2 separate regions of the Homo sapiens genome follow, and region 2 is linked to region 1. Evidence: fine-mapped expression QTL. A gene starts in region 1. The other region holds a variant in brackets. All regions are shown on one strand. Distances are from middle to middle.

Region 1 (2,500 bases):
TCCATCTTGCTTCTAACCTCCAAGCTGTCCTTGTTCATTCCTGAGCGTAGGCTGAACTAACCTTGGGAAGGAATGAGTTTATAGTTTAACTTCAAAACAAAAATAGCCCTTTCCCGGGAAAACAACAACAACAACAACAAAAAACAACCTCTTCTTGCCTGGGACCAGTTGGCCTTTGGAGGACTAACAAATTAGCTATAAGATTAGAAATTACAGTTTAGAGGCCATACAGCCTTTGGTTGCAAGAGTCTGAACGTCCCCCAAATTGTTCCTGGGAATAACATCACTGTTGTAAAACCTACCAACACCCAGACTGGTAATCTGGCTCAACTAGTTCTGCAATCCCATTCAGGAACAGAAGACAGCAAGAAAAACTCACTTCGGCCCCCTATCAGTCCATCTCCAACCCGACCAATCATGCACCTCCCACTTCCCGAGCTTCTACTCGCCAAATTATCCTTAAAAATTCCGATCCGTTTTTGGGGAGACCGATTTGGCTAATAAAACTCCCTTTCCAACACACCCGGCTCTGCGTGAATTACTCTCTCTCTATTGCAATTTCCGTCTTGATAAATCAGCTGTCTAGTCAGCGGGCTGTAACCTTGGGCGGTTACAGCCTGGCCTGTCCCATCCCATCCAATAGTTCCCATCTCTTCTCAGCTCTCTCTGTAGTTTCTCTTCCTCCGCCTGCCTTTTAAGTTAGTGTTTCCCAGGACAGAGGTGACTCAGTTGTATCCAGACCGCTCTGTGACTGAACACCCACTTTCTTTTCCTTTTCCAAAAAATATATGTAACATACATGTCAACTAGGAACAAAACAGTATCTCAGGAATCCACCATCCAGTTAAAAATGGACCCTTACCCTTACCGTGCCCCTGCAGAGACCCCAATACAGCGCATTTCCCTCATTCTTTTGCTTTTCTCAAGTTTTACCACGGCCTCGTGGCCACAAGTGACAAAAGAGACAAGTGGAGGCAGCTGAGCCGGCCTTTAGGTTTCTGTACACAGGGAGATTTCCCATGGCTGGCATTTATGGAAACAACCGCTGGTATGTGAAAAACAGGTCCGTCACCGCCGTCACGACGGCCAGAGATTATACCCGCCGAGATGCCCGCGGCCCAGGGCCTACAATTTCCTCCGGCCAGCTCCTTTGGCCGCGCAAGCGCAGTGGGGCCGGCGGGAAGCGTAGGCGTGTGACGTCATCAGGCGGCGCGGGCCAGCCAGGTGCACGTGACTAAGGCCTTGGGCGCGGCAGGTGGTAGCCTTCCCGCCCTTCTGGCCTCTCCATCCCCTGCTGCGGGGGACCGCGCAAGCGCAGTGAGTACTGCACGTTGTCGCGGGCCAGTAACGTCATCAGACGTGTGTGTGTCCCTGCGGCGCTAAGAAGGGGAGACTGAGGCTGAGGCTGGGGAACATCGGGCAGCATGAGCGGCTGCGGGCTCTTCCTGCGCACCACGGCTGCGGCTCGTGCCTGCCGGGGTCTGGTGGTCTCTACCGCGAACCGGCGGCTACTGCGCACCAGCCCGCCTGTACGAGCTTTCGCCAAAGAGCTTTTCCTAGGCAAAATCAAGAAGGTAACGCGAGCCCTGGGCGAACCCTTGCTGTCTGGCTCCCGCTTTTCACCCTCAGCTGCAAGACTGGTGTTGAACTTTGTGAGATTCCCCAAACCTGCCAGAGAGATACACCCTGCGGCCGAGGCGTGTTAACACTCCGGATTCCTGAGTTCCAGGAAAACCTTCCCAGAGAAAGGGTGAGACATTTCCAAGACGGGGGACCCTTGGAAATGTGGTGGTGACGTGTTCCAGCTAAATTTTGTCAGGGGAATTCGGAAAACTCTAGGCTAGGTAATTAACAAAGCAGCCTTCATCTCAGCTGGTCTGGTCTGGAAATGTGCGGGGCTTCCTCTCTGATTCCTAAACAGCTTACACCATGTCCCTCCTCAGTCACCTTCCAGCGCCCTGGGGCTTCCTTCCCCAGGTGAGCCCAGCGCCTCTCCCTGCCATTGAGGTTCCTCAGAAATCTGGCTCCAAGATGCTTCCCAAGGGTGGCACAACCCAGCCAATAGTAACAGTTTGGTTATAAAACACTCATTGTCTTCTTAGAGTTGGAAGACTTGGGTTTGGTCTTGGCTCGTTGACTTTGAAACTCAGTTGTTTTTTTTGAGACAGAGTCGCGCTCTTGTCGCCCAGGCTGGAGTGCTCACTGCAACCTCCCTCCTGGGTTCAAGCGATTCTCCTGCCTCAGCCTCCGGAGTAGCTGGGATTACAGGCGCCTGCCCGGCTTTTTTTTTTTTTGTATTTTTAGCAGAGACGGGGTTTCACCATGTTGGCCAAGCTGGTCTAGAACTGACCTCGGGTGATCCGCCCACCTCGGCCTCCCACAGTGCTGGGATTACAGGGGTGAGCCACCGCGCCCGGCCAAGACTCAGTTCTTTCAGCCTTAAAATGGAGATAGTGTTGTGTCTCCTTCACAGATGTGTTGTAGAGCCCCAGTGAGATAA
Region 2 (3,016 bases), 25 kb before region 1:
TCTCAGGTTGCAAATTGGCATTAAGTTGGGGAGATTCAGTATTCATACCTGGGAGACACTTGCCTTCAAAGTGAAAGGAAATCCTGGGGAGGTTTTGGTGCTCCGGAAGGCAGGCAGACAGTGGGGCTGCAGCCAGGCCCTCTCCTCTGCATGAGGCTTTATGGGGCCTCAGCGTCTCCCACAATGATGGGGTCCCCCTGAGCTCCTCTTTTCAGTGTTCCCACATGAGCCTGAGTGTGGGGGACTTTCTGAGCCATTGCCCTCTGACTTCCCCTCTGTGGGCTGGGGAGGAGCTGTGAGGAGCTTCAAGGTGTGGGGTCGGGGCCCTTGGGCAGCCATCTTGGGGCACCCGAGCCCCAGCCCTCGGGAGCCCAGGTGCAGGCTCTGCCTCCACCTCTGAACGGCTGAATGGCGTGTTCAGCTGCTGTGGGTGGCAAGCAGGGAGGGCCGTGACAAGGTCTCCATTCCAGGCTGATGTTCCAGATCTGCAGGGGTGAGTATCAGGGAGGCCCGGGGTAATCACCCTGCCCAGTGGTGGCCTCTGCCATGGGCACACAGACTCCAGGCCAGGGAAGAGACACAGCAGCAACCTTGGAGGAGGGGCCTCTGCCCACCTGTGTGACAGCCACCAGGGGCTCCTGGCTTCACAGCCTTGCTGGGGAGAGATGGGAAACTGAGGCCTGGGGACCCTCAGCTGCCTGAGGTGCAGCTAGACTCAGATCCACCTGAGGCTGCCCAGTCCACCTCTTCCTTACTTCCTCCTTCCAAGAATATGGGCACAGTGGTGAGAACTTGGAGATAAGAGATCGGGACCAGTCCCAGCTGGAACCACTGCCCCACTGCTCAGCCTCTGGCAGCCACTCCTCTCTGGCCTGAGTGTCCTCTTAGTTCAATGGGCATCTCTAGGTCCCTGTGGTACCTTCCTTGTCACAGGCACATGAGGGGTCAACAGGATCATCACCCAGCACTGTTCACAGACACAGACTGAGGCTGGATCCTCGGAATCAGAGCTGGAGGGGGCCCTTTTGTGCAGATGGGGAAACTGAGCCTTGGACTGACTGTTGCGGGAATCAGGAGACTGGAGAGACCAATGGGTGAAACAGGAGGATTTTATTTAGGTGGCCACCGGCCTAGTGGGTTAATATTCAGAGGCTGATAAATGAACAAAGGCCAGGCTTAACTTTTATTCAGGCAACTGAAGGGGAGTGGCTAGCCAGTGGCACAAAACTTGCAGGGTGGGGAAAGCAAGCTTACAGAAGCAGAACAAAGGCAGTTAACTGTGACAGGTTTTGCAATTCAGGCATGTCTTGTGACCTTTGCCATCCTGCACAGATGGGAAAACAGGAACTTATAAAATCCTTGCAAACTTGCAGAAATAGTTACAAAAATAGTTACAAG[C/T]GCAGAACAAAGAATAATGGCATTGGGAGAGAATTCCAGGGGGAGACGGATAAGAACTTGTTTTTCTCATCCCTATTCTTGGAATCCATTTCTTTGGGGCCCCTGCCTGGCCTTGCAGATAATGTTATCATAGCTCCAACTGGACTTGTTTTCCCTTTACTTGTTTTTCTTATATTTCCTGCTTAATTCTCCCCTTTGATGCTGTTTATAAATAAAGTTTAATAGAAAGCATTATCATCAGAATTTAATTCTCCATGAGGAGTTAGTCCTTTATTTGGCAAAGGTTGATATTTGATTAATGCCATTAGTTGGGTGGTGGTTTACCTGGTTACAAGAACCTCTATGGCTGATTGGATGTTTTTAACAAGGAGAGGTAGGAGACAAGGGAGTGTGAGACAGACTCCCAGTATGACCAGAACTATTCCTACTAAGGTCTTAAATCTTCCAAGGGACGAAAACCAGCCCCCAAAGAGGGTATCTGGAGACCATCCTTTCCAAATTTGGACTGGGACATGGGCTAATTTTTGAATTTTTGCAGTTATATCTTCAATGACCTTCCTATTGTCATCAATTTCTAGGCAACAATTAGTTTAAAGTTTCCGCATACCCCTCCTTCTAACATGGATAGAGGGAGTAGCAAGAACAAAGTAAGGAATAGTATGTTCATACCCAGCATGGACAACAGAGGTCCTTATCCAGGGGAGGAGGTTGAGCACAGTGACAGGTTAATAGTAAAACAATTAAGATTACAAGGAAAATTACTGGGCTTAAGATTTCTAACTACATTTACTTCCTAGATGAAACTTCGGCTGTGCATAGACTAGTCAGCTTCTGGGGTGACTAACAGGACTGCTGTCTCCTCAAGCTTCAGCTGTGCATAGACTGGTCGGCTTCTGGAGTCACCAGAGCAGGGCTGTTGTCACTTTCACTGGCACCTCGGTCCTGTCATAGGATCAGCTGGTTTGGATGGTCTGAGTCTTGCTGGCTGGTCCACTTGTCCTGGGCTGCCAGTTTCAGCCAACTGTGGTGGATCTAAGGCACGATTCCTGCAACTTTAACAGCAGTGGTAGTGGACAAGATTACAGTATGGGGCCCATCCCATATGGGTCCTAAAGTGGTTGGATTCTATTTCTTGACCTAAACAGAATCCCTGGGTCTAAAGGGGTGTGTTTGGTCTGTTAGTCCTATGGGCATTCTTTCCAGTACCCAGCCATGGATCTCTTGCATGGCTCTCCCTAAGGCCTGCATCTGCCTTCTCAAGGTTAGCTCCCTTAACTCACGGAATTACCTTAATTTTGACCTTTAATTTGACCTATGGTTGGGGGTGGCTGGCCGAACAAGATTTCAGAGGGTGAATACCTAGTTTGTTTGGTGGGGGTACACCTGACTTGGAGGAGGACCATGGGCAGGACCTGATCCTATCTTAGATGAGTTTTTTGGCAATATTTCTTTAGTAGCTGCTTGAGTGTCCGATTCATGTGCTCCACTTTTCCTGAGCTTTGTGGCTGGTTGACTGTGTGTAATTTCCATTTCTGGAATCCCTGGGGGCCTGGTTTGCAACATGTCATGCACTGGTCTATATTCATTAGTCCTTGGTTTCCACACTGGCAAAAGTGTT

Evidence for each region.
Region 2: its variant is fine-mapped to the expression of ACAD9 in hypothalamus (GTEx, PIP above 0.99).

Annotation. Positions count from the first base shown.
Region 1 is chr3:128,878,268-128,880,767 of GRCh38, forward strand. ACAD9 (acyl-CoA dehydrogenase family member 9) reads left to right here and starts at 1,353. Exons shown (of 18, transcript NM_014049.5): 1 at 1,353-1,574. The coding sequence starts at 1,425. ACAD9-DT (ACAD9 divergent transcript) reads right to left here and starts at 1,169. Exons shown (of 3, transcript NR_186174.1): 1 at 869-1,169. RefSeq lists enhancers at 223-1,074, 930-1,479, 1,075-1,927, 1,540-1,619, 1,928-2,500.
Region 2 is chr3:128,853,465-128,856,480 of GRCh38, forward strand. No RefSeq gene overlaps it. Among named protein-coding and RNA genes, the nearest start is that of MIR12124, 8.2 kb to the left of the region's middle. The variant C/T (reference allele first, on the strand shown) is at 1,399.